Linked DNA regions of Homo sapiens: regions 2, 3, 4, 5, 6 and 7 are each linked to region 1. The links come from fine-mapping of genetic effects on gene expression. A gene starts in region 1. Each other region holds a variant in brackets. All regions are shown on one strand. Distances are between the middles of the regions.

Region 1 (4,069 bases):
CTTTGCTGACTCCTTTTTCGAACTAAGTCGGCCTACACCCACATGATTAAAAGCTTTATTGCTCACCCAAAGCCTGTTTGGTGGTCTCTTCACACTGACGCGCGTTAACAGAATGAATGGATAGAAAAGTCTTCTGAGTACTTTTTAAGAAAAAAGCTTATTGGCCGGGCGCGGTGGCTCACGCCTGTAATCCCAGCACTTTGGGAGGACAAGGTGGGCGGATCACGAGGTCAGGAGTTCGAGACCAGCTTGGCCAACACGGTGAAACCCCGTCTCTACTAAAAATACAAAAATTAGCTGGGTGTGGTGGCGGGCGCCTGTAATCCAAGCTACTTGGGAGGCTGAGGCAGAAGAATTGCTTGAACCAGGGAGGCAGAGGTTGCAATGAGCAGAGCAGAGATCGCGCCACTACACTCCAGCCTGGGTGACAGAGCACGACTCCCTCTCGAAAAGAAAAAAAAAAGCTTATTAAGCAATAAAGCACAGAGTATCAGACCATATGTTTAGTGCTGAACATTTTATTATAAATGATCAAAAATGTTTAACATACTATTGTTTACAACCTCCCACTACTGTAAAATCTAACATTGCTACTTTCATTTCAGGTAATGCAAAAATACAAGAAGCATTAGCTGTCTGTAGGCAGAAATCTGTTCGAGTCATTCCTTATTACTGAATCCCTAGAATTAATTAAACATCTAGTATGGAGTTGGTATTGTATATAACATTTGCACTCACGTCTTACAAAATAGTCATCTAAGTAGAAAGGTATTCAAGGCAGAAGGATGGAAAAACGTTTGCAGTCTTTTTTGGTTGGCATGAAACACTGACTGCATTCCTCCCAGATTTATAAGAAAGAAATATTTGCAGTCTTACCTGGAGTTAGATGGATGGACTCTCTCAAGGTTATTTTTCAATCTCTGCACATACATACTTATGGAAGTAAGAAAGAAGAGGGAGAAAAGGCAGATCCCCCATAACAGCGGTTAAACACCTGAACTTGCTCCACTATGACAGGGTTTATCATCCACCTCTCAGTCCTCAAGTGGCTGGAAATATGGAAATTGGAGTCCAGGTAGACAGGTGAGTGTACAACCTCTTAAGTGTGGAGCCCTCGGAATTCACAACACTCCCCAAATCGCTTCCTGCGCAGGCGCGGAGTCGGAAGGGAGTCGGAAAGCAGACCCCGGTGCCCCCTAATAAAGCCCCCAGCCGGACGCTGCCGCTACCGGGGTTTGGCAACTTCCGGAAGACCTGTGGCCCAAAGGAGAATCCTGTTGGGGGAGGCGGGGGCCGGTGGTCGCTAACCAATCCGACACCCGCCAGCAGGCTGAAGAGAGGGGCTTTCCCAAAAGGAAAACTTTCCCAAACCTGGGGGATGGGAAGAGAAGACAAAAGGAGCTCCCTTTCCCACTTCCCAGCCGCCCGTCCCAGCCCTCGGCCTCCGCTGCGCGACCCGGGCGGAGGATCCCGGCCGCAGGCCGAGGCGAGAGCCAGGCGGGAGGGCCGCGAGCGGGCTGCCCCTCTCCCCGCCTTGCCGTCCGCCGCTGACGTAACCTGCGAAGTTTGGGGAGGGAGGAGCTCGGGCGGCCGGAGCTGGTCGCTGCGCGCGCCGGGGGGAGGGCCGGGGCTGCGAGAGAGGAAGCTCTTTCGCGGCGCTACGGCGTTGGCACCAGTCTCTAGAAAAGAAGTCAGCTCTGGTTCGGAGAAGCAGCGGCTGGCGTGGGCCATCCGGGGAATGGGCGCCCTCGTGACCTAGTGTTGCGGGGCAAAAAGGGTCTTGCCGGCCTCGCTCGTGCAGGGGCGTATCTGGGCGCCTGAGCGCGGCGTGGGAGCCTTGGGAGCCGCCGCAGCAGGGGGCACACCCGGAACCGGCCTGAGCGCCCGGGACCATGAACGGGGAGGCCATCTGCAGCGCCCTGCCCACCATTCCCTACCACAAACTCGCCGACCTGCGCTACCTGAGCCGCGGCGCCTCTGGCACTGTGTCGTCCGCCCGCCACGCAGACTGGCGCGTCCAGGTGGCCGTGAAGCACCTGCACATCCACACTCCGCTGCTCGACAGGTAGGCAGTCACTGGGGTTCCCTGGAAGAGCCCTCAACTCCTGCATCCCCTCAAGCCCCCTGACAAGCGGGCTCTAGAGCCCAAATGGCAGTGACCGCTTGGGGCCGGCCTCACCTCGTCACCTCTAGGGAGCCCTTCAAGCTTGGGAGATAGGGAGCACCCACCCTTCAAGCTCTGGCACCGTAGGGAGCACAGGCTTCTCTGGAGATGCAGCAGTTGCATTCCTCCACACATCTCTCCATTACCCTTTCTCTCCTTCCCTCTTACTCCTAGGCGTTCTGGCTCCGTACTCCAAAAATCAGCAATCACTGCCTAACTCTAAACGCTGGGTTTACTGAAATTGATGTGTGTTTATATATAGTGGGTGTGGGTTTTGTTTGCTTTGTTTTTTCCTTATTTTTGAAATTGGGCTGTAGGGCTGCACTGTCCAGTAGGTAGCTCTTAGCCACAGGTGGCTATTGAGCACTTGAAATGTGCCCGTCCGAATTGAAGTGTGACCTAAGTGTAAAATACCAGAGTTCGAATGCTTAGTATTTATTAAAAAAAGAACTTATAATATTTTATTATTTGTTTATTGATTATATGCTGAAATAACATTTTTGATATCTTGGGTTAAATATAAGATTAAAATTCATTTTATGTGTTTCTTTTTACTTTATGTGGCCACGAGAAAATTTTAAATTGTATGTGGTGGTGTTCACATTATATGTTTATTGGACCGCACTGCTTTAGAATCAAGGATGTTTTGCTTCTTATTGTTTTTATTTTGGTTTTGGTTTATTATGTGTTGTCAGGAACGTTTTATATCAAACTCAATACTAGCAGTTCAGTTTCTCCCAGTCTCAGTTTCTCTCACAGGGAAGATTAAGTAGAGGAAATGTGTGCTATTTTTGCCACAATAAATTGAACCAAAAGACTGTTAAATGGCCAGAAATTGTAAATGGCTTTCACTTATTGGTTTGTACAGGTTTTAAGGGAAGGTTAGCATTAGTTTCTGTTTTCAGAAGAACATTACAACCGCGTGCCATAGACCTGTGACTGTGTATTAGTCAATGGGTCACTAGTCTTGTGTATTTTACTTCCTACAGGGATTTAACTAGGCCCAGCATTCAGTTCTTAGTGAGTTAACATCCATGATTACAACATTCTCTTCTCCTCCTCCTATATCTAATGTGAAAATACGTCATCCCCGATGCCTGATTGGCCAGAAGCTGTGAGTATCCAGCATCAGATAAATTCCTCAGCTTCCGCCCTGCCAAAGTTACTGGATTTTCACCTGCCTGTGGCTTTTCTTCATTGTCTCTCACTGTCAGGCTTCGATGGCCTAAATGGCACAGGAGATTTGGGACACTTCTAGAGCTTGTTTCCACTTCTTGTCTATCATAATCCAGATTCAGTGATATACAAGGTGTGGTGTCTGTTTACTCCAGGCCTTATATTCTGTGGAGCAAGTGCTGGACAAGTGTGTATATGTGTCTGTAGTCAACTTTTAAGGGTGGTGGTTGGTTAGAGAGGGTGGATATATGTTAGAACCAGTTATGCAAACACTATATGGAAATGTAGCACTGATGGACCCATTAGGTATTGAAAAGCCAATTGATCCTCCCACTTTGGGTGCTGCTTCTCAGGATTTTGATTTATCTAAGCTTTGTGCAGTTTGGGGACCAAGAAGTGAAGAGGGAGTTTCCTTCCCATACTCATGAACAATTTTCATAGTCTAAAATTCTTCACTGAATTGGGTAGGAAATTAATTCTGTCTTCGAGGAAGCCATAAGACCAGCGAAACACTCTGGCATTTACTGCATCACATTCTTTTCTCCAATTTGTTACTTAAGATCTTATCATTGCAGTATTTATGTAGTCTGAGCATTAGATGAGGCTATGCAGTTGACTCACTGGTGTCTCTTTCCTCACTTATAAAATACGAATAATAAATACATGTGTTTCTCGGACTATGGAGAACAATGTTTGCATTGTTCTTTGGGATGACCTGAAAAAAAATAA
Region 2 (4,069 bases), 160 kb before region 1:
AGAAGGAGATCTTGCCACTTGCCACAACATCAATGAAACTACAGGACATTATGCTAAGTGAAATAAGCCAGGAATAAAAGAAAAACATTATATGATCTCACTTACATGTGGAATTAAAAAAAAAATTTTTAGGTCAAGTATACAGAAACAGATAATAAAACAGTATTACCAGGTTGCCAGTATTGGAAAGAGGCAGAAATTGAAAGATGTAGATCAAAGGATACAAAGTAGCAGACATGTAGAATGAATAATATCGAGATCTAATGTTCAATAGGATGATTATTAATAATATTGTATTCAGGAATTTTTGCAAAATGAGTAGATCTCAACTACTCTTGCCACACACACAAAAAAAATGGGTAACTATGTGAGATGATGGAGATGCTAATTTGCTTCACTATAGTAACTATTTTACTATCTATATGTATCCAACTAGATTATGTTGTGTGCTATATATATATAATTTATTTTAAGGGGGAAGGAAAGAAGGAAGGTAGGGAGGGAGGAAGAGGGGAAGGAAGAGAGGGAGGAAAAGAGGAAGGAATGAGGGAGGAAGAGATGAAGGGAGGGAGGAAGGAAGGAAGGAAGGAAGGAAGGAAGGAAGAAGGAAGGAAGGAAGGAAGGTGGGAGGAAAGAAAGAAGGAATGAATCAGGACTAAGACTAAAATCCAGGCAGTCTAGCTCCAGAGTTCATACTCTTAACCACTCTGCTCTATTGAGTAAGTGCATTAATGAACAAACCAACAAAATAAAGATATTACAATGATAAATGCAGTAATAGAGGCCTGAAGTAGTGCTACAAACACAGATGGGGGAGTAATTAATTCTGCCTGAGGATGGTGGAAACCTTCATATAACAAGTAGCATTTTTGTTCAGCATTGAAAAGTGAAGTGCACTAGGCAACAAACATAAGTATTTATTGTGACTTCATATGTCATTTATTGCAAACAATATTATCTATTTGAAGTCTAAAGTTTTAACAGTGTTTTTATTTGTTAGCAATATTAACTCTAGTCATCATTTTAGTTCCTCAGTCACTTCTCCTATGACGCAGGCCTCAGATTTTTTTCTAATTTCTTTGATAAAGATAATATTTGAGGGAAATGCAGACTTTTATCTTTGTGAGGTAGATTGTTTTTGCTGATGATTATGAAATGAACTAGAACTGAGATGGAAAATATGAAGTAATTTTTTCTTCTCTGTGTCATAAGATTTGCTTTGGCTCTCAATTCAGAGCAGCTTGAAACTGTAAACTGATCACTCCAGAGACCACCCATCCATTTTACAAGGTTCATATCTGGTTTTGCCAAACTTCCATTTGAGACCATGCCCAGTCCTCAAAGGAGTCATGAGAAGGAAACTGAAGAAAAGGGGAGATAGGAAATGTGGCCTATTGTGTCCAGAGAGTGTGATAGGAAAATGGGAGTCACAGGGATGTCATGGACATGAACTAAACACCACCAGAGCAACATTAGGTGTCAAGTTCCCCAAAATGATTCCTACTGGAGGTTAGATTAGCTAGAGCTGATTCTACCTCTGCAGCCCTTTGGCATATTCAGGGAACAAGGCTTAGCTTGCAAGTGTACAGCTGCTGAGCTTGCAAAGGAATGAAGAAAAAAATGTGAAAAACATCTGCAAGCATGTCATTCAAAAAAGACCTTGAGATAAGTTAACCCTAACATGTGAAAATCAGGACTTGGCGGACAAGTAAATTTTGTGTTATTTTACCCAGTTTCTGAATTGTGGAAGGAGAAAATAACATACTCAACTTTATCCCTCTGAAATACTTGAGTTCCTTTCAACTCTAAAGGTCACTGTTGAATACTTCTGACAAATACTTTTTAAATTAATCTCCATAAAACAAAGCATTTACATTTCAGCTTGATACCAGAAAAACAATATCCTGAATGAGAAGTTTTGTACTACACAGCATCAGTTTATATTCTT[T/C]TACAATGGAGTAAGATCACACATTGATCCCCTAGCTACACGCAGAAGATAATAAATAAAACACAAACACAGGACAGGCTGACCCCCAATTCGGCAATCATAAGCAAGCATTACCAGCAGGGCTACTGCTGGCACCATGGGCTCTGCATGATGTCATAATACAGTTCACTGTTAAGGACAGGAAGTAGACCTGGAGGACTTAAGATATCCATGTAGTTAAAATGATGCAATGAATTGTGGAAACATTAAGTAAACTTCAACACTGTCATCTTGCTGTTGGATAGTGCTCTACTTGGCAAAATACAATAATGGTGAAACAAGACCATTTCACACAATGACAACTGCAATAAACACAGTAAAACAGGGTGATGTGTGAAAGCAACTGAAGTATGTAGTACTTACATAGGACAGGGGTGGTTATTGTCATGTAAGATCTCTTGGGAAAGGTAATACTTCAGCTGTGTCCTGAACAATGAAGAACCATAGATGTCAAGATCTGGGGTAATGAGATTATGGGGAGAAGGAACAACAAATTCACACAATTAGTGAACAGTAGTGCTGAAAACTTAAACTCAGTCTTCTACTCTTTCCATTATCGGAATCTCTCTCTTTTTACTTAGTAAATGACAAACTGTGACCAATAGGTAACACAGCACCCATGAAGTCAAATTAAGGCTATCATAACATTCTTTTTTTTTATTATTATACTTTAAGTTTTAGGGTACATGTGCACAATGTGCAGGTTAGTTACGTATGTATACATGTGCCATGCTACTGTGCTGCACCCATTAACTCGTCATTTAGCATTAGGTATATCTCCTAATGCTATCCCTCCCCTCTCCGCCCACCTCACAACAGTCCCCAGAGTGTGATGTTCCCCTTCCTGTGTCCATGTGATCTCATCGTTCAATTCCCACCTATGAGGCAGCATATACGGTGTTTGGTTTTGTGTTCTTGCGATAGTTTACTAAGAATAATGATTTCCAATTTCATCCATGTCCCTACAAAGGACATGAATTCATCATTTTTATGGCTGCATAGTATTCCAGGGTGTATATGTGCCACATTTTCTTAATCCAGTCTATCATTGTTGGACATTTGGGTTGGTTCCAAGTCTTTGCTATTGTGAATAGTGCCGCAATAAACATACATGGCATGTGTCTTTATAGCAGCATGATTTATAGTCCTTTGGGTATATACCCAGTAATGGGATGGATGGGTCAAATGGTATTTCCAGTTCTAGATCCCTGAAGAATCGCCATACTGACTTCCACAAGGGTTGAAATAGTTTACAGTCCCACCAACAGTGTAAAAGTGTTCCTATTTCTCCACATCCTCTCCAGCACCTGTTGTTTCCTGACATTTGAATGATTGCCATTCTAACTGGTGTGAGATGGTATCTCATTGTGGTTTTGATTTGCATTTTTCAGATGGCCAATGATGGTGGGCATTTTTTCATGTGCTTTTTGGCTGCATAAATGTCTTCTTTTGAGAAGTGTCTGTTCATGTCCTATGCCCACTTTTTGATGGGGTTGTTTGTTTTTTTCTTGTAAATTTGTTTGAGTTCATTGTAGATTCTGGATATTAGTCCTTTGTCAGATGAGTACGTTGCGAAATTTTCTCCCATTTTGTAGGTTGCCTGTTCACTCTGATGGTAGTTTCTTTTGCTGTGCAGAAGCTCTTTAGTTTAATTAGATCCCATTTGTCAATTTTGTCTTTTGTTGCCATTGCTTTTGGTGTTTTAGACATGAAGTCCTTGCCCATGCCTATGTCCTGAATGGTAATGCCTAGGTTTTCCTCTAGAGTTTTTATGGTTTTAGGTCTAACGTTTAAGTATTTATTCAATTCAACAAGAAGAGCTAACTATCCTAAATATATATGCACCCAATACAGGAGGACCCAGTTTCATAAAGCAAGTCCTGAGTGACCTACAAAGAGACTTAGACTCCCACACAATAATAATGGGAGACTTTAACACCCCACTGTCAACATTAGACAGATCAATGAGACACAAAGTTAACATGGATACCCAGGAATTGAACTGAGCTCTGCATCAAGTGGATCTAATAGACACCTACAGAACTCTCCACCCCAAATCAACAGAATATACATTTTTTTCAG
Region 3 (4,069 bases), 48 kb before region 1:
AAGTTAATGTAAAATCCCAATTGTCGATTGTAACTATATAGAAATATAATGAATTTCTGAATATTGACCTTGCATCCTGCAGCCTTGTGAAACTTACTTATTAGTTCCAGTAGCGTAATTCTTCAGTTTTTTTAAAAAGTGGATTATCATGTTATCTGCAAATAAAAACACTTTCTTTTCTCTATGTATTTTGTTTCTTTTTCTTGCCAAACTTCACTAGCTAGGAATCACAATAAAACACAGAAAGAAAGTAGTATATGTGGACAGGAGGTGAAATAGAAGTATATTGTTGAAGGTTTCATTCACTGTGTGGGAAATGATTTGTCATCTGGTGGTAGACTGTTGTGTTAGTTACCTATTGCTGAATAACAAAATACCCCAAACTTAGCAGCTTAAAACAGCAATAAACATTTATGATCTCCCACAGTTTCTGTGCATCTGGATGGGTTTAGCTGGGTGGTTCTGGCTAAGGGTCTCTCATGAAGTTGCAGTCAAGATGTGGAAAGGGGGTGGAGCCAAGATGGCTGAACAGGAACAGCTCCAGTCTACAGCTCCCAGCATGAGTGATGCAGAAGATGGGTGATTTCCGCATTTCCAACTGAGGTACTGGGTTCATCTCACTGGGGAGTGTCGGAAAGTGGGTACAGGACAGTGGGTGCAGCACACCAAGCGTGAGCCGAAGTAGGGGGAGGCATTGCCTCACCCGGGAAGTTCAAGGGGTCGGGGAATTCCCTTTCCTAGTCAAAGAAAGGGGTGACAGACGGCACCTGGAAAATCGGGTCACTCCCACCCTAATACTGCGCATTTCCAACAGTCTTAGCAAAGGGCACACCAGGAGATTATAGCCCACGCCTGGCTCGGAGGGTCCTATGCCCACGGAGCCTCGCTCATTGCTAGCCCAGCAGTCTGAGATCAAACTGCAAGATGGCAGCGAGGCTGGCGGAGGGGCGCCCACCATTGCCAAGGCTTGAGTAGGTAAACAAAGTGGCCAGGAAGCTTGAACTGGGTGGAGCCCACTGCAGCTCAAGGAGGCCTGCCTGCCTCTGTAGATGCCACCTCTGGGGGCAGGGCATTGCCAAACAAAAGGCAGCAGAAACCTCTGCAGACTTAAATGTCCCTGTCTGACAGCTTTGAAGAGAGTAATGGTTCTCCCAGCATGCAGCTGGAGATCTGAGAACGGATAGACTGCCTCCTCAAGTGGGTCCCTGACCCCTGAGTACCCTAACTGGGAGGCACCCCCCAGTAGGGGCAGATTGACACCTCACACAGCCGGGTACTACCCTGAGACAAAACTTCCAGAGGAAAGATCTGGCAGCAACATTTGCTGTTCACCAATACCCGCTGTTATGCAGCCTCCGCTGCTGATACCCAGGCAAACAGGGTCTGGAGTGGACCTCCAGCAAACTCCAACAGACCTGCACCTGAGGGTCCTGACTGTTAGAAGGAAAGCTAACAAACAGAAAGGACATCCACACCAAAACCCCATCTGTATGTCACCATTATCAAAGACCAAAGGTAGATAAAACCACTAAGATGGGGAAAAAACCGAGCAGAAAAACTGGAAACTCTAAAAATCAGAGTGCCTCTCCTCGTTCAAAGGAATGCAGCTCCTCACCAGCAACGGAACAAAGCTGGATGGAGAATGACTTTGACGAGTTGAGAGAAGAAGGCTTCAGACGATCAAACTACTCCGAGCTAAAGGAGGAAGTTCGAAACCATCACAAAGAAGCCAAAAACCTTGAAAAAAAATTAGATGAATGGCTAACTAGAATAACCAATGCAGAGAAGTCCTTAAAGGACCTGATGGAGCTGAAAACCAAGGCACGAGAACTACGTGATGAATGCACAAGCCTCACTAGCTGATTTGATCAACTGGAAGAAAGGGTATCAGTGATGGAAGATCAAATGAAT[T/G]AATGAAATGAAGCGAGAAGAGAAGTTTAGAGAAAAAAGAATAAAAAGAAATGAACAAAGCCTCCAAGAAATATGGGACTATGTGAAAAGACCAAATCTACATCTGACTGGTGTACCTGAAAGTGACAGGGTGAATGGAACCAAGTTGGAAAACACTCTGCAGGATATTATCCAGGAGAACTTCCCCAATCTAGCAAGGCAGGCCAACATTCAAATTCAGGAAATATAGAGAACACCACAAAGATACTCCTCGAGAAGAGCAACTCCAAGACACATAATTGTCAGATTCACCAAAGTTGAAATGAAGGAAAAAATGTTAAGGGCAGCCAGAGAGAAAGGTCGGGTTACCCACAAAGGGAAGCCCATCAGACTAACAGCAGATCTCTCGGCAGAAACTCTACAAGCCAGAAGAGAGTGGGGGCCAATATTCAACATTCTTAAAGAAAAGAATTTTCAACCCAGAATTTCATATCCAGCCAAACTAAGCTTGATAACTGAAGGAGAAATAAAATACTTTACAGACAAGCAAATGCTGAGAGATTTTGTCACCACCAGGCCTGCCCTAAAAGAGCTCCTGAAGGAAGCACTAAACATGGAAAGGAAAAACCGGTAACAGCCACTGCAAAAACATGCCAAATTGTAAAGACCATCGAGGCTAGGAAGAAACTGCATCAACTAACGAGCAAAATAACCAGCTAACATCATAATGACAGGATCAAATTCACACATAACAATACTAACCTTTCATGTAAATGGGCTAAATGCTCCACTTAAAACACACACATTGGCAAATTGGATAAAGAGTCAAGGCCCATCAGTGTGCTGCATTCAGGAAACCCATCTCACATGCAGACACACACATAGGCTCAAAAGAAAAGGATGGAGGAAGATCTACCAAGCAAATGGAAAACAAAAAAAGGCAGGGGTTGCAATCCTAGTCTCTGAAAAAACAGACTTTAAGCCAACAAAGATCAGAAGAGACAAAGAAGGCCATTACATAATGGTAAAGGGATCAATTCAACAAGAGGAGCTAACTATCCTAAATATATATGCACCCAATACAGGAGCACCCAGATTCATACAGCAAGTCCTTAGAGACCTAGAAAGAGACTAAGACTCCCACACAATAATAATGGGAGACTTCAACACCCCACTGTCAACATTAGACAGATCAACGAGACAGAAAGTTAACAAGGATATCCAGGAATTGAACTCAGCTCTGCACCAAGCGGACCTAATAGACATCTACAGAACTCTCCATCCCAAATCAACAGAATATACATTCTTCTCAGCACCACACCACACTTATTCCAAAATTGACCACACACTTGGAAGTAAAGCACTCCTCAGCAAATGTAAAAGAACAGAAATTATAACAAACTGTCCCTCAGACCACAGTGCAATCAAACTAGAACTCAGGATTAAGAATCTCACTCACAACTGCTCAACTACATGGGAACTGAACAGCCTGCTCCTAAATGACTACTGGGTACATAACGAAATGAAGGCAGAAATACAGATGTTCTTTGAAACCAACGAGAACAAAGATACAAGATACAAGAATCTCTGGGAGACATTCAAAGCAGTGTGTAGAGGGAAATTTATAGCACTAAATGCCCACAAGAGAAAGCAGGAAAGATCCAAAATTGACACCCTAACATCACAATTAAAAGAACTAGAGAAGCAAGAGCAAACACATTCAAAAGCTAGCAGAAGGCAAGAAATAACTAAGATCAGAGCAAAACTGAAGGAAATAGAGACACAAAAAACCCTTCAAAAGATCAATGAATCCAGGAGCTGGTTTTTTTAAGAGATCAACAAAATTCATAGACCGCTGGAAAGACCAATAAAGAAGAAAAGAGAGAAGAATTAAATATATGCAATAAAAAATGATAGATAAAGGGGATATCATCACCGATCCCTCAGAAATACAAACTACCATCAGAGAATACTATAACTACCTCTACACAAATAAACTAGAAAACCTAGAAGAAATGGATAAATTCCTCGACACATACACCCTCCCAAGACTAAACCAGGAAGAAGTTGAATCCCTGAATAGACCAACAACAGGCTCTGAAATTGAGGCAATAATGAATAGTTTACCAACAAAAAAAGTCCAGGACCAGATGGATTCACAGCCGAATTCTACCAGAGG
Region 4 (4,069 bases), 44 kb after region 1:
AACTTGATTCTGATCCGTTTGACTGTTTCAGCTTGACGTGCCTTTCCTGAAAGAAAAATACCACCTCAACAAATCAGATCATTGTAACTATACATTAAGCCTAACATAGGAAGGTGTTGATATTCTGCTAAACTTCCCTAAACTTTGTGAATATGAGTGAAAACTTCTATACTTTGGAACACTGACTTCCATTCTTTAGAATCTGTGCTTCCCAAGAAGCCCGGCTTCAAACTTTGCACTTGAATCAACTCTGTTTAAACTAGATTCTGAGTCAGGCATGGTGGCTCACGCCTGTAGTCCCAACACTTTGGGAGGCTGTGGTAGGCTAATCACTTGAGACCAGGAGTTTGAGACCAGCCTGGCCAACATGGTAAACCCCATCTCTACTAAAAATACAAAAAAAAAAAAAAAAGTTAATCAGGCAATCCCAGCTACTTGGGTGGCTGAGGCAAGAGAATTGTTTGAACTCAGGAGGCAGAGATTGTAGTGAGCTGAGATCACACCATTGCACTCCAGCCTGGGCAACAGAGCGAGACTCGCCTAATGTCTTTTTTCTGCTCCAAGATCCCATCCAGGATGCTGATGAGGTGTGGAAAATGATTCCCCAGCCTGTGGGGCTTGGGCATGCTGAGTGCTTTTGAAAATTGAAAGGCCCCAGAAACAAGGTCCTGTCTAACCTTGTGTTGTTTCCCCAGCCCACTTCACCTCCCAGGACAGGAAGGGACTCTCTCTGGAGTTTCCTCATCTGTTCAAAAAAGTCTCTTACAAAAAAAAAAAAATTGCCTTCTATCTGCTTCCTAAAATGGCATTATCTATTGCAGAAAAAAGACAAGAATGCAACCACACCTGGACAGACTTGTTTTTAAGAAGATAATTCCTGCCACTGGAGCTCAGAGAAAATTCCAGAGAAAATCCTTTACAAGTTAATTACTGTTCCCTGGTCCGTCCATTCTCCCTAATAGTCATTTACTGCCCCTCAAAGAATTGTCTATATCCCCCAGCGCTTCCCTCCCCTATGAAAAAGGGTATATAAGCTGTACCCATTGGAAGATTGGGGGAATCCCTTTGTGATTCCACCACATTAATACATTTGTATGCCTTTTCTGCCTTTCATCAATTGATTTCAGCAAACCTTCAGAGGGCAAAGGGGAAGTTTTCCCCTGGCCTCTATAATACCACATTACATTTGGTTGCCCTGTCTCCTCAAACCTTTGCACTTTTTGACCCATCAATGAAAACACCTTTGCAAATATTATGACAGTGAGAGAACGCTAGCATGACTCATGCCCTCTTGCTTCTAGTCTCACAGGCTGGCTGTCTTCACTCATTCCTGGGCATAGACCAAGCTAATCATGGGAAAATCTTAGTATATAGTTTAATTTTGAAACAAGGATCATAATAGTCCTTCCCTAAAACTGATCCCTGCCTTGCTCAGAGACCAAAGCTGCCTTTGTAAAACTAATGAACGTTTATGACATAGGATTGTGGGAGGGATCTGAATTCTGCTAAAATGTAGGCATAGTTTCTATGTTCCCTTACTGCTCAGGAGTGGAGTCATGTGGCCAGAGGTCACAAGATTTGTGACTTCCCCACTTGCTCCTAAAGATAGTGTCACTGCTGTAGAACCTGAGGTTGGTCTTTTGAGATGTTTTTCAGATTTTTGCATTCTGGCAACTGACTGATCCCACCCAAACCCATGACTCATGACTCAACCGGTTCTAC[T/C]GCTCTCACTCAGAGGCAGATACAGCACACAAGCACCATTTTCCACACCCCTATGATTTCATTCTCACCCAATCAGCAGCACCCATTCCCTATCCCCCTGCCCACCAAATTATCCATAAAAACCCTAGCCTCTGAGTTCTTCGTGAGACTGATATGAGTAATAACTCCAGCCCTTCCATTTGGCTAGCTCCACGTTAATTAAACTCTTTCTCTACTGCAATACTGCAGTCTCAGTGAAATGGTTTTGTCTGTGCAACTGGCAGGAAGAACCCATCAGGGGATTACACGAATTCAATATCCAAGAATTTATTCTAAGGAAATAATCATAGGTGTGTGTAAAGATTAAGCCATGATGATGGTCACTGAGGCATTGCTTAAAAACTATTGAGAAACCAAAAGAGATTTTGCTTTTGGGGGTTATATCAATCCTTATTTGCCACTAGAAATTAAAACTGAGAAGTCAAGAATATATTAATTCATTTAAAACATCCAAAGTGAAAAACAGTTGATGAGAAGAACCATGTTATTTTACATTTTTGCATATCTCTTTGAATGTTTAAAAAAGTAAGTAAATAGAAGAGAACTGGGTTTTCATATCTGCATTCAATCTGTTGCAAAATCACATGTCATGTAGCCTCTGGAAAACTCCACTGTTCACCTGTGAGAGTATGGGAGTAATAAATGCAATAACATCTCAGAATTATTATGGAAATAGGTTTGACCTAGCAGATTCCCTGAAAGGTCACAGCGTCTCTGGGTGATACTTTGAGAAATGCTGGCTTAATACAACAAAAAGTTTAAAACAACATAAAAATTTCAAATAATCTAAGATATTATAAATGACCCTCAATACTATTAAATAAAGAATAAACACAATTCTTATTAACTAAATCATATTTGTATTTTTGTCTTTTTATTCTCATATTATGCTGGCAGAATTACCCCTTCTCCTACTAAGAATAATCCTTTGTTTCTGCATTTCTCCTCTAGCTTGTTAGATGACTCTCCCTCTCACTTCACTCCAACCATTCCCTTAGAAAGTTTCCTTCTAGAAACACTTAAGCCTGCCGAGAGTTTCTCATAAAATAAATAAATAAATAAAATAAAGTCAGCCCTTTCTGTCTACTTCTGTCTTTCTCTTTCCTCTTTTCATAACAGAGAGGATTTTTTCTCCTTTTTACCTCACTGCTTTCTAAATTCACAGTCTAGTGATTAGGTTTCCAGATTTTGTTTTTCTGTAAACTAATTACACATTCTGTTTTGGAATTTGCTTCTTACATATTTATATGTCATTACATGTAAATTATATTATTTTTTAAACTATTATGTGGTGCTTCATTATATTGATGTACCAATATTTAATCTATTTCCTCTTGATGAACGTTTTAATTTTCCTGACTTTCTGCTATTAGAAAAAATATGAATAGGTATGGTGTATATGTTATTCATTTATATGTAAATGAATTTATATAAAATATAAATTTAAATTAATTTATATAATTTTTTTAAAAATTTTACTTTAAGTTCTGGGATACACGTGCAGAATGTGCAGGTTTGTTACATAGGTATACATGTGCCATGGTGGTTTTCTGCACCTATCAAACCATCATCTAGATTTTAAGCCCCACAGGCATTAGGTATTTGTTCTAATGCTTTCCCTCCCCTTGCCTTCCACCCCCGGACAGACCCTGGTGTGTGATGTTCCCCTCCCTGTGTCTGACTTCAAACTATACTACAAGGCTACAGTAACCAAAACAGCATGGTACTGGTGCCAAAACAGATATGTAGACCAATGGAACAGAACAGAGCCCTCAGAAATAACACCACACATCTACAACCACCCGATCTTTGACAAACCTGACAAAAACAAGAAATGGGGAAAGTATTCCCTATTTAATAAATGGTGCTGGAAAAACTGGCTAGCCATATGGAGAAAACAGAAACTGGACCCCTTCCTTACACCTTATACAAAGATTAACTCGAGATGGATTAAAGACTTAAATGTAACACCCCAAACCATAAAAACCCTAGAAGAAAACCTAGGCAATACCATCCAGAACATAGTGTAAATTTGACATATATGTGCATACTTATTATTATTATTATTATTTTTGAGACAGGGTTTTGCTCTTGTTGCCCAGGCTGTCATGCAGTGGCACGATCTTGGCTCACTGCAACCTTCTCCTCCCAGGTTCAAGCAATTCTCCTGTTTCAGCCTCCTGAGTAGCTGGGATTACAGGCACGTGCCACGACACCCAGCTAATTTTTTGTATTTTTCATAGAGACGGGGTTTCACTGTGTTGGCCAAGCTGGTCTCAAACTCCTGATCTCAGGTGATCCACCCACC
Region 5 (4,069 bases), 41 kb before region 1:
AATCAGCTGTTGATCCCGTTCAATCTATTCATTTCAGAGATGAAATGAAGAATCTATTGTATTTTTCATCTCTATAACTTTGATTTGTCTTCTTCTATTATCTATATCTCTCTTCATCATGCTCATGCTTCCCTATACCTTACTCATGATGTGAAGCATATTTACAATAGACAATTTTAGTCATTACATCACCTCTGTCATTTCTGGTGCTGTTTCTATTTATTGACATTTTTCTTCTGATTATGGGTTAGGTTTCTTATTCTTTCTACTGTCTGGTAAATGTTTTATTGCTTTGCGACATTGAAACCTCACTTAATAGGGTGGTAGATTTTGTTGTAACCCTTCTAGTAGTCTTAGGCTTTGTTCTAGCACGCAGTTATGTTACTTAGTAGCAGTCTACCTCTTTTGAGGCTTGTTAGGGAAATCCAGAGTATATTTTAGTCCAGGGCTAATTTAGCCTCACTACTAACTTCACTACTGAGGTATTCTTCTGAGGATTCTATTCAATGCCCCTATATAATACAGTGTAATAAGGTCTTTCCACTCTAACTGATGGGAACACAAACTCTTCCCAGCCTTAAGTGAGCTTCAGGAATTATTTGGCTTATTGCCTCCCAGCAGTTCTTACCCCTGCCAGGGGTATCTTTCTCTCTCACATGCACATACCAAGGCTCAAGGGACCCCTTTGTGATCTCTGGGTATATTCTCTCTTATCTCTCTCTCTCTCTCTTCACCAACCCCCCCCCCCCACCCAAAATCTCTATCCACTTTAGTCTCCATGAACTCTAATTTCTAATCCCTCCACTAAGGTAGACTGCCAGGATCTGTTCGAGGTTTCCCTCTGATATGGTTTGGCTCTGTGTCCCCACCTAAATCTTATCTCAAATTGTAATCCCCCATGTGTCAAGAAAGGGACTTGGTGGGAGGTGACTGGATCATGTGGGCAGTTTTCCCTATGCTGTTCTTGTGATAGTGAGGGAGTTCTCATGAGATCTGACGGTTTAAAAGCGGCAGTTTCCCCTGCACTTTTGCTCTCTCTGTCTCTCTCTCTCTCTCTCTGTCTCTCTCTCTCTCCTGCCACCTCTTAAAGACATGCCTTGCTTCCCCTTCACCTTCCACCATGATTGTAAGTTTCCTGAGGCCTCCCCAGCCATGAGGAACTGTGAGTCAATTAAACCTCTTTCCTTTTTAAATTACCCAGTTTCAGGTCATTCTTTATAGCAGCGTGAAAACAGACTAATAAACCCTCCATCTATTAAAGCTCGAAAACTGCCTCTAGGTGGCAAGCCAAGCTGAGGTAATAATAAGGTTCAATTTGTTTATTATGCCTGAAAACATTGTTTTGTCCAATTTTCTATTTGTTTGAGGTACACAGTAAATGTAGTCTCTGTCATCCCATTATAGCCAGAGCAGAAATGATCTCCAGAAATCTTTTTTAAATGTCAAATTACTTGCTGGATACCTCTTTTTACAAATATAGGAAGATACCTCTACTTCCAAATATAAGACGCATATGAAACTTAACATATATAAAGTTTAACTCTGCTCTCCTCTGCATGCCCTGAATCAAGTAAACCTGCCCCTTCTTTCATGTTCCCCGTGTCAGTAAATGGCAACTCAATCATTCCCATTGTTTGGACCAAAATTTCAAAATTTCTCTTTCACACTTAATAGCTAAACCATCAGCAAATTCTTTCAAATCTTGTCCTCAAATGTATATACAGACTCTAATCCGATCGCAACCATCCTAGTTTACTTCAGCTCATCATCCCCTCTTTCCCTGGATTATTGCAGTAGCTCCTGTATCAATCAGGTTCACTGCAGTAATCCTGCATAAAAATTATTCCTCCAATCTCAGTAGCTTTCAATGCAATTTATTTCATGCTCATTGGTCTACAAGTCTGCTGTGGCTTTGCTATCGTTGGCTGGGCTTTGCAGGGTCATCCTGGCTTGATTGTAGGCTGCTGTTCAGGTTCAGGTTTGCTCCATATCTCTCGTTCTGAGGCCCAGGCTTAAGGGCACTGATTGCTCACAGTATTCTTTTGGCAGAAGCACAAAAGGGCTGGAAGAAATTTGCTGGGTCTTTTAAGGCTTTGCCTCCCCACTGGTACAGAGTCA[C/T]TTTTCACTCACATTCCATTGACTACAGCAAGTCAAATAGCCAAATCCAGTGATGGTGGCCTGGGGAAATCTTATGGGGAGGACAGTAGGGTGAATATTTGCTGAATAATAATCTACCACAGCCTCCTAATTGCTCTTCCTGTTCTTTCTCTTGTGCTTTTCAGTCTGTTTTCAACATAGAATACAGAATGTTCCTTTTAAAACACACCAAGATCCTTCTGTGCGAAAAACCCATCAATGACTGCTCATTTCCCTCAGAGTCTATACAGCAGTCTACAAAGCCTTAGTCACTCCTGCATCTGGTCACTTTTCTGGCTTCATGTTCTACTATTGCCTCCTTCCTCTCTGAGTATCATTAACACAGGCCTCTTTCTTTGCTAAGCTGGAACAGGCCAGGCAAATTCCTGTCTCAGGCCTTTGCAGTTGCAATGTACATATCTGAAACATTATTCTGCCCCCCCCCACCCCCAGTTGTCTCTCATGCTGTTCAGATCTCTGCTCAAATGTGACCTTAGTGAGGTCTTCCAAGAGTACCTTATTTGTAATTTCAAACTTTTTGATACTTTCTGGCCCTCTTCTTTGCATTACTTTTCTCCAGAGCACTTACTATACTTTGTTTTATTTATTGTCTGTCTCCTCCCACTAAAATGTGATATCCAGGTTCTAAGGGTTCTAAGGATGCTGTTGGAGAAACAGACTTGGGAAAGTACTGCTCCAAGCTCAAGCTGCTCTCACTAATGATCCTGTTTCTCGTCTTCATGTTAGGTGTTTTCTTAATAATGGCCACAAGGTGGCATGCATAATACCTAATTCCAAAAACATAGCCAAACATACTCTTAGGAGTTAAAGTTATATCATCCAGTATATGTAACTTTAGTTCACAATGGAAACAGCAGAAATTTTCCCAAATAAAATTTGGAAAAAATAAACAAGGAAAAAAGCAGCCCAAACCACAACTACTATCACCACACTGACCACTGACACCACAAGATACACAGTTTATCTTTCTCATTATGAAAATTTAGCATGTGAAAGCACAGGTTGAGGATTATTCTGGAATTTTCTTCAGGTCTTTGTTGTTTGCTTGGTTGCTTGTTTGCTTGCTTTTTAAATCTCTGTAGCTACTAAGCTTTCCTTTTGAGTGTGACAGTGGTAAGGGTCTCTCTTATGTCTTCGGGCATTTTATTTCAAAAGTTCACATGATGTAATCTTTATTATGCTTCTCCCCTCATAACAGGTAAGTCCTTGAGTTCACGACCATGAAGAAGTGATTAGTCAATTATCTGAGAACCACTTCCTCCTAAGTGAGAAGAAGAAACAAGCCAAAGATAGAAGAGGCAGCAGTGTGGGAAAAATTAAATGAAGAGACCTTCCCAAATTGTTCTCTTTTCCTGGTTCTCCTGTAAGGTGAGAATGGGCTGTATACACTCGGAAATGCATGCAACATCTATGGAGTGGTTATCTGTTACTCATTATATTGTAGTTCTCTGTTGTCATCGCTGAATCTCTGGTAAATGCTTGTTAGAGGCTACAGTGTGATCTCAACTGTACTGCAGGAAATTCAGGAAGGGTTGTATGCCCTAAATAGGCCTGGGTGGGAAAGGTGGAAACATCCACATTTTCCTTGGTGCCAGGGTGGGAGTGGGAACAGTGACTAATGAGTTCTTTGAGGAGCAGAGGGCAGAAGTCCTGAGTGCAAGATCCAGCTGTCCCTTCCTCCACAGATCCTCATTCCACTGCCAACTTTCAAAGTACTAATGAATAAGGAATCTCATTGGTTTCCTTTTAAGGGGCATCAAAATTCTGGTTCCATGTAAAATTTCTTATAGGTTTATACAATGTCTCTGCATTTTTAGCACCCTCTGTGTTTTCCATTGAATCTCATTTTTGAACAATTTCCCTTTCAAAAAAAGCAAAGCATTTTCCTAGTCATTCAAAACCATAACCAAGT
Region 6 (4,069 bases), 34 kb before region 1:
AAATATTACCACTGTTAAGACGAGAAAAAGAATATGTTAAGATGGGGCAGGAATGCTGAACACACCTCTTTCCTTTCCCTGACTTTTTAAAACACTGCTACGTCCTTGTCAAATTCTGTTTGAGAAGTTAGACTCACACGCTTCCCAAATCTTAAAGCCTAGGAATACATTTTCCAGTAATACAGTAACTAGCGACAAAATTACTCTTCAGTCAAGCAAGTTGAAAGAAGTATGGAATTCATTTTAAATGGGTTATTAGCTGAATACTAAAATCAATCGTTCAATGTCCCAGGATTTTATCAATTAGATTTAACTGTAATTTAAGACAGTCATTAGCTTCCTAAATTCTTAAACTTTCAGAGCTTATAAAAGCAACACAGCCTGGCTGTGTATTTCAATCACCAAGTAGAGTCAAAACGTGTTTCAAGAGATCACTAAAATGCCTGCTGGAACTGAGGAAGGGAAAAAACAAGATAAAAACAAACACTAGCAAAACCGATACCCTAGTCACCTAATAAGCTTTTAGACAACAGATCTCCCTCCAGATTCTTGCAAGATTTCTTCTTTGACCTGACTCCCTTTAGATATAATAATTTATATGGTGCCCCTACTATCAGGGTTTAAGTGAGTCATCGCTTTGTTCTCTATATGTCAAAAGCACTCAGTACCTTCCACATATTCCTCTCTTGAAATTCAGAGTGGAACAAGTCACAAAACTTGTTTTCCCTCAGAGATAAGGTTATGCCAAATCAGCCAAGTCCCTGAGAAAAAGGCATCCCCAGTATTTTCATGTACTGGTACCATTTATTATAAAGGGAGACTTTTTAATTTTGTTGATTTGTTTGTTTTGAGGGGCCACATAAATTACTGTAAAATTGCTTTAGATTTCACACTCAGGCAGCGACACACAGTAGCTAAGAGACTAGACTTTGTCAGACAGAATGGGAATCTGGTAGGTTTTACCACTTACTAACCCACATAACATTGGGAAAGTAACATTAGCTAATTGTTAATTACTAAGGCACTGTTCAAAGTGCTTAACTTGAATGAATTCATTTACTCCTCAAAAGTCCCTATGAGATAGGATCCTATAAATGAGGTAACTGAGGTAAAAACAGTAAGTAATATACTCAAGATCACAGAGCTGGTAAAATAAAGAACTGAGAATAAACTCAGGTAGCCCTGTTGCTAAAGCCTATATTCTTAACCACTTCATTGGTGGTTTTTAAAAAATTTAAATACAACCCACTCCAAGAAGTAATTTTTTAAGGGCTGGGTGTGGTGGCTCACACATGTAATCCCAGCACTTTGGGAGGCTGGGGTGGGCAGATCACCTGAGGTCAGGAGTTCGAGACCAGCCTGACCAACATGGAGAAATCCCGTCTCTACAAAAAAAAAAAAAAAAAAAATTATCTAGGCGTGGTGGCACATGTCTGTAATTCCAGCTACTCAGGAGGCTGAGGCAGGAGAATCGCTTGAACCTGGGAGGTGGAGGCTGCAGTGAGCCGAGATCGCACAATGCACTCCAGCCTGGGCAACAAGAGCAAAACTCCGTCTCAAAAAAAAAAAAAAGTAATTTTTACTAGGACTCATTGTAAGAAATATGTTCTGTAACACAACCCAGTACATACACATATGTGTTTATTTTATAGACATGATAAGATATATATATAATTGAAACCAAAATTTGATGAAGCTATGCCTACTCTTACTTCCTGAAATGCAATGATATTTCATATTCTATTTTATTGTTTAATAACTACTGATCACTCCCTACAAAATTGATTTCAAAATCCACTGAGAGTCATGACCTGAAGTTTGAAAACAAGAAACATTTATTTTTACCACCATGGAAAATTTTGGAGGATTAAGTAAGATAACATACGCAGAGCATTTAGCATAACTCCTGGCACATACCATGTGCTAAATTCATGGTAGCTATTTTTATGTATCTTTTTGAAAACTAGCTGCAATTGTGGAAGGCAGGGACAATGAGGGGAAAACCCTGACTGGGCTATAGATGAATTTATTGTCAGTTAGGTCTGTCCTTGGTAGTGAGATGGGGAATTTCTCCAGTATCTTTAACTTGTGCTGCAATGGAAATGTGTATGCAGAAAGAGAGCTGACTCATGGTTATCTCTTCTCCACTACAAAAAATTGCAAATTACAAGTTATTGTGCCTCACCACTGGAAACCTCAGTAAATTCCAAATTATTGATCCATATTTACATCCAGTACTTACACTGGATACGATGATGTATACAGAACTGGTCTTCAAAAGGAGTCCTGCTGGGAAGAAGTGTTCATTTTTTGTTGATGCTTTATCAAATTACCACAAACTTAGTGGCTTAAAACAATGCAAATTTATTATCTTATAGTTCTAGAGGTCAGAAATCTGGACAGAGTCTCACTGAGCTAAAATCATGGTGTCAGTAGGGCTGGGTTGCTTTCCAGCAGTTCTAGGTGAGAACCCATTTCCTTACCTTTTCCAACTTCTTGAAAGAAGCCACCTGTATTGCTTGGCTCATGGC[C/G]CCTTCTTTCATCCTCAAAGCCAGAAACAGCAGGTTGAATCCTTCTCACATCACGTCACTCCAACTCTGACACTGACTCCATTGTCACATATCCTTTTCTGGCTCTTCTGCCTCTCTTCCATCTTTGAAAAACCTTTGTGATTACACTGGGTCCAGCTGAATAATTCAGGATAATCTCCCCATTCAAGATCCTTGACTCAATCACATCTTCAAAGCCCTCTTGCCATGTGAGGTAATATCAGAGGTGCTGGAACATTTGGTGGGGTTGGGGCAGTAGGCAACTATTCTGCCTAACACAGGACATAAACCACAAAAAAGAGCAAATAAGATGCAACAACAATAATGATAACACTGAACATTTACTATATGGCAGGCATTGTGCTGAGTAAATTATTTGCCTTGACTCACTTTCTAGGTGAGAAACCAAGACTCCCAAAGATAATGCAAAGTACAGAGTTATACAGATAGAAAGTGGCAAACCCAGGTCTGCCTGACTTCAAAGATCATACTCTCAACCACTTTACTACACATAACAAAATACCAAATCTATACACAATTAGTGGTTTGCAACTTTTCTCTATCAGGAATTCCTTTTGCTATTTTCCCTCCAGGGACCTGATCTTGAAAAATTTTGTAAATTAAACAGCAAAACATTTTATTAACCTAAGCCAAACTTCTGATTCCAACATCTGATAGCTTTGAGCTAAACTCTTTGTCTCTTTTGGGACTTACATAGTTCTAACCCCCTCAAAAAAAATGCAATTAACATTTCATTTTACATATCTTGGCATCATTTTGGAATCCTAAAAACAGGAACTCAAATAACCACCTTTATAGATACCTGATGAGTTGTTTCAGGTTGAAGTAATGATCCAAGAGTTCAGAGAAGGAGATTGATGGTGGTGGTGTAGTCAGAAGAAGTGGAATATAACCTCAGTCTCAAAGAAGCAGAAATTTCCAATGAACTAGAGAAGAAGGAAGAATACAAATAGCGTCTAGGAAGTGAGAACAAGTAAATCTAGGGAAGCTTGTTAGGAAAAACTGGAAAAGAAAATTAAGTAGAGAATAAATAAAGCATTCAGGCTTTGAAACACAGGTAAATACAGTTACATTTAACCAGATAGGAAAATACAGAATCTGGAAAGTTTCTGGGCCACAAAGTGCCACACAGTAAAATCAGGCATCTGCTCCTGGCATGCTTAAGAGCTCAGAATAAAGGACTTCCCCATTCTGCCCCTTCCCCCACTGTAAAGCTCACTGGCTTAAAAAACTGCTCCTTCTGCTACTATCTACCTCATTCTAAGCATCAACTCTAGGTGGGGCTGGTGCCTAGGCATTTTATAATTACTTTTCTATGTCTGCCTAACTTGGCTGAGAACCTACTTCAGAACTGACTCAAAAATCTCACAGATGCTGTCATTCACCCTCAGGATCTGTGTTTAATAATAGAGTCACAAGGCCTATGCAATCCAACTCAGCCCAGGGTCTGGCTTAGCCAATGTCTGCCAGCTGGTCTCATCCCCACACCCCAGGCCCCC
Region 7 (4,069 bases), 29 kb before region 1:
TGCCCCAGAGTATAAGAGGATGCACACATGATTAACCATGACCATACATTAAAAATGTACCATCCAGACTCTGGAAAAACTTTTTGTTGTCTGTGGTAGCAAAAATAGTCATCTCGTTTAAACTGCACCTTCAGATCTTCTCTTTCCATAAATTTTCCTCGATAATTTATTCCCTACAAAATACTACTGATTTGATTCTTCATTCACTACCTCCCTAGTCTTCTTCTCATTTTAGCATGAATATTACTGAATCTCTTTACAGTGTTTCTGTTAAATATTTGTGTAGATATACATATGTATACTCTGCTGTCTTCCATGTAAGCTGCTTAATAACTAAGCTATCTTAGACATTTAATTTAGATGTGTGTACCATTTGATTACTCACTAAATAGAAATTTACATAATCCCTTTATTCTAACAAGTTTACCACCTTATCACAAAGCAAATCTAAAGAAAACTGCAAACCTGGCAAGGTGGCTCATACCTGTAAAACCCAGCAATTTAGGAGGCCGAGGTGGGCGGATTGCCTGAGCTCAGGAGTTTAAGACCAGCCTGGGTGATATGGTGAAAACTTGTCTCTATAAAAAATACAAAAATTGGCCAGATGTGGTGGTGCATGCCTGTAGTCCCAGCTATTTGGGGTGCTGCGGTGGGAGGATTACCTGAGCCTTGAGCGGTCCAGGCTGCAGTGGGCCATGTCTGAGCCACTGCACTCCAACCTGAGTGACAGAGTGAGACACCGTCTCTAAAACATATTAAAATAAATAAAACTGGAAATTTATGTTATTTGGTTCTGATGTTTACATGTCCAGCTATGGGCTCTGAAACAGCACCAATGCCATAGACAAAATCCTTAGAGAAGTCAGAGGAGCCACCTCTCTGACTGAGATAGAGAGAGGGCTCCTGGCTGAGTAATAACTACTGTATGAATTTGTCAATGTCCTCTAGTCAAAGACCACCAGCAACACATCTGCAGTTCTATAAAACTGGGTTTATTAATTCATTGCAAGGGGGAGAAACAAATACCATGGGAGACCCTTGAGCATATCAGTAAGAAGGTGTTAGAAAAAACTTACAGGATTTGAGTTTGTGGTAGGTGATTCGGGGGAGCTTTCAAGAAAATGGGGATCTTCCCTGGACTGGATGTTGTACAGAAACAGGGGGAATTCCCTGATTAGGTATCTTAATTATTCTTATCTAAACATTGAAAGGAATGAAGTAAGCTAATGCTATAATTGGAAAGAATCAGCAGTTATTCATTATTAGCCAGGAAAGGGGAATGTTCACTCATTTTCATGGATTGGACAGTGTTCTTATTTTTCTCTGTTCTGAAATGATCATGAAGTAGTCTAATTTCCATCTTGCTCCATTATAGTCACAAAGAGATCATGTGTGAAGTTTGTGTTCTGTGAAAATGTATATATTCAGAAAGAGAACTCCACAGCTTCACTGTGAGTGCTAAGCCAAGTCTTAGCCAGTAGTGCAAACTAGATAAGAAAGCTTTGCTCAAAGGGCAGAATTGGCCAGAAAACAACACTTATTATTGTCATTATTTACGAATATTGACAGGCTTATAAAGTCCTTATATATTCATTGTGTAACTTGAGCCTCTCAGAACAATCTTGGAAGATAAATAGACCATAGTACCTCCACATTGCACAACTTCAGGGGCCCCAATGATCATGTATTCCATGTGAATGATACCTCCCCACTGTGAACAACATCCCCACTGGAGTTGTACAAAAATGGCTGCCCTGGAAGGGCAGACATTTCTATTCTGTTTGACAACTATTAAAATTGAGCCAAAGAAGGTTCCTGAGTGCTCTTTATGTCCCAATAAACTCCACAGTTTTGTCATGTTCAGCTGCTGACGTTGGATCCCTGATGCAGTCATAGTTCCCCCTTCCAGAGAATTGCACCAGCCCGCCCTGTGATGACCTAGATTACACAGGCTACTACAATAAGAACAGCTCCGCCTTCTTCTACAACTGTATCTGCCCAAAACAGGATGTTAAAAAGGTTACTGAACTTATAACCTCCTTTCACAGTCACTTCTTAAGAAGTGTGTGTGTGTGTGTGTGTGTGTGTGTGTGTGTTGC[CT/C]TTTTTTTTTTTTTTTTTTGAGACGGAGTCTCGCTCTGTCGCCCAGGCTGGAGTGCTGTGGCGCGCTGGAGTGCAGTGGCGCGATCTCGGCTCACTGCAAGCTCCGCCTCCCGGGTTCACGCCATTCTCCTGCCTCAGCCTCCGGAGCAACTGGGACTACAGGCGCCCGCCACCACGCCCGGCTGATTTTTTTGTATTTTTAGTAGAGACGGGGTCTCACCGTGTTAGCCAGGATGGTCTCGATCTCCTGACCTTGTGATCTGCCCGCCTCAGCCTCCCAAAGTGCTGGGATTACAGGCGTGAGCCACCGCGCCCAGCTAAAAAGTTAATATACCTTAGTATATTTTGTTTATGACCCAGGAGTGACAGGTGAAAAATACAATTTTGAATTCTGAAAAAAAATTAAAAAGCAAAATATCCCGCTGAATTCAAAGGCGAAAATGTTTAAATGCAAGCGAAATACTAGTTACATGTTCTTCCACATTCTTGGAAACCTGCCAAGTAAAATATAAAAGGAAAATGGAATTTCCTAAGTAGTGTCTATTAATAATAAATATTTTTCCAATTATGTCTTTTTGTAGCTGGGAAATTCCCTCTTGTCACTAAGTTTCTCTCCTCAGACATTACAGAAAGTAAAACCGAAACTGAAGCACTCTACTGATAAATCAAGTAGTTCCCAGAAATAATATGAACTTTGATTCAAACAGATGTGTTCAGAAATCCTATCTCCATAATTTACAAAACTGTGACTTCTGGCAATTTACCTAACCTCTACAGACCTCACTTTCATTAAATTAACATACATACTTCTCTCGCCTATTATTATGAGTGTAACCTGGAATTCCCTATCAGAACCTGGACTTCCCTATTCTAAAATTAATGACGCTGTAACTGCATATTGTGGTGTCTATCTTCTTTAGAACACTAAAAACATTTCAGGGCAGAGACCACATGCATTTTGTTATTCTTGTATTTCCATCACCTAGCCCAATGGTACATAAAATATCTGTTGTTTTTTGTTTGTTTGTTTCATTAGGAGAGACGGACTAGAGATCTGCAGTATCAGGAAGGTCCATTTTTCATCCACATGCCTTTTTATAATGTTTGGATGTCTTACCATGCCTATTTGATACATGTATTTCTTTTTAATTAGAAATCATAACAGAGGGCCAGGCACAGTGGCTCATGCCTATAATCCCAGAAATTCGGGAGGCCAAGGCAGGTGGATCACTTGAGGTCAGGAGTTCAAGACCAGCCTGGCCAAAATGGTGAGACCCCATTACTACTAAAAATATGAAAATCAGCTGGGTATGGTGGCACATGCCTGTAATCCCAGCTACTCAGGAGGCTGAGGTGAGAGAACTGCTTGAGCCTGGGGGACGGAAGTTGCAGTGAGCTGACATAGCGCCACTGCACTCCAGCCTGGGTGATAGAGAGAGCCACTGTCTCAAAAACAAAAAAAAGAAAGAAATCATAACAGAGAGTCAAGGGAAATTAAGATCAAGATTTATCTTGTTCCCAAATAAAGGAACAAGGTAAATCTACATAAACCAATCTGAATGAATTGGAGATATGTAGTTTATCTGACAGGGAATTCAAACTAATGGTATTACAGATCCTCAATGAAGTCAGGAGAGCAACACAAAAACAAAATGAGAGCATTGATAAAAAAAGATAGAAAGTAATAAAAAGTACCGAACAAAAGTTATAGACTGAAGAATACTATAACTGAACCCTAACTAAAAAATTCAGCAGAGGGGTTGAGTAGCAGACTAATCAAGCAGAAGGAAAGATCAATGAACTTGAAGACAGATCACCAGAAATCATTCACTCTCAGGAACAAAAAGAAAAAATAATGAAAAAGAGTAAAGATAGGTTACATAAGGTCAGGCGCAGTGGCTTATGCCTGTAATCCCAGCACTTTGGGAAGTCGAAGTGGGCAGATCACCTGAGGTCAGGAGTTTGAGAC

The links.
Region 2: its variant is fine-mapped to the expression of PARAIL in left ventricle (GTEx, PIP 0.94).
Region 3: its variant is fine-mapped to the expression of PARAIL in cerebellum (GTEx, PIP above 0.99). The same link has a PIP of 0.9 or more in prefrontal cortex.
Region 4: its variant is fine-mapped to the expression of PARAIL in fibroblasts (GTEx, PIP above 0.99).
Region 5: its variant is fine-mapped to the expression of PARAIL in whole blood (TOPMed, PIP above 0.99).
Region 6: its variant is fine-mapped to the expression of PARAIL in whole blood (TOPMed, PIP above 0.99).
Region 7: its variant is fine-mapped to the expression of PARAIL in monocytes (Schmiedel 2018, PIP 0.95).

The regions. Positions count from the first base shown.
Region 1 is chr8:89,756,169-89,760,237 of GRCh38, forward strand. PARAIL (palmitic acid regulated anti-inflammatory lncRNA) reads right to left here and starts at 1,543. Exons shown (of 5, transcript NR_125822.1): 1 at 877-1,543. RIPK2 (receptor interacting serine/threonine kinase 2) reads left to right here and starts at 1,648. Exons shown (of 11, transcript NM_003821.6): 1 at 1,648-2,065. The coding sequence starts at 1,893. RefSeq lists a silencer at 1,394-1,513 and enhancers at 2,054-2,123, 3,402-3,491.
Region 2 is chr8:89,594,069-89,598,137 of GRCh38, forward strand. No RefSeq gene overlaps it. Among named protein-coding and RNA genes, the nearest start is that of PARAIL, 160 kb to the right of the region's middle. The variant T/C (reference allele first, on the strand shown) is at 1,949.
Region 3 is chr8:89,707,679-89,711,747 of GRCh38, forward strand. No RefSeq gene overlaps it. Among named protein-coding and RNA genes, the nearest start is that of PARAIL, 48 kb to the right of the region's middle. The variant T/G (reference allele first, on the strand shown) is at 1,912.
Region 4 is chr8:89,800,178-89,804,246 of GRCh38, forward strand. No RefSeq gene overlaps it. Among named protein-coding and RNA genes, the nearest start is that of RIPK2, 44 kb to the left of the region's middle. The variant T/C (reference allele first, on the strand shown) is at 1,723.
Region 5 is chr8:89,715,541-89,719,609 of GRCh38, forward strand. It overlaps PARAIL (palmitic acid regulated anti-inflammatory lncRNA), which reads right to left. Exons shown (of 5, transcript NR_125822.1): 5 at 1,859-2,188. Among named protein-coding and RNA genes, the nearest start is that of PARAIL, 40 kb to the right of the region's middle. The variant C/T (reference allele first, on the strand shown) is at 2,119.
Region 6 is chr8:89,722,146-89,726,214 of GRCh38, forward strand. PARAIL (palmitic acid regulated anti-inflammatory lncRNA) reads right to left here. Exons shown (of 5, transcript NR_125822.1): 2 at 3,373-3,496; 3 at 2,484-2,821; 4 at 1-11. Among named protein-coding and RNA genes, the nearest start is that of PARAIL, 34 kb to the right of the region's middle. RefSeq lists enhancers at 3,559-4,069, 3,684-3,733, 3,764-3,813, 3,864-3,963. The variant C/G (reference allele first, on the strand shown) is at 2,532.
Region 7 is chr8:89,727,350-89,731,418 of GRCh38, forward strand. All of the region lies in intron 1 of PARAIL (palmitic acid regulated anti-inflammatory lncRNA), which reads right to left. Among named protein-coding and RNA genes, the nearest start is that of PARAIL, 28 kb to the right of the region's middle. RefSeq lists a silencer at 2,104-2,153 and an enhancer at 2,354-2,403. The variant CT/C (reference allele first, on the strand shown) is at 2,100.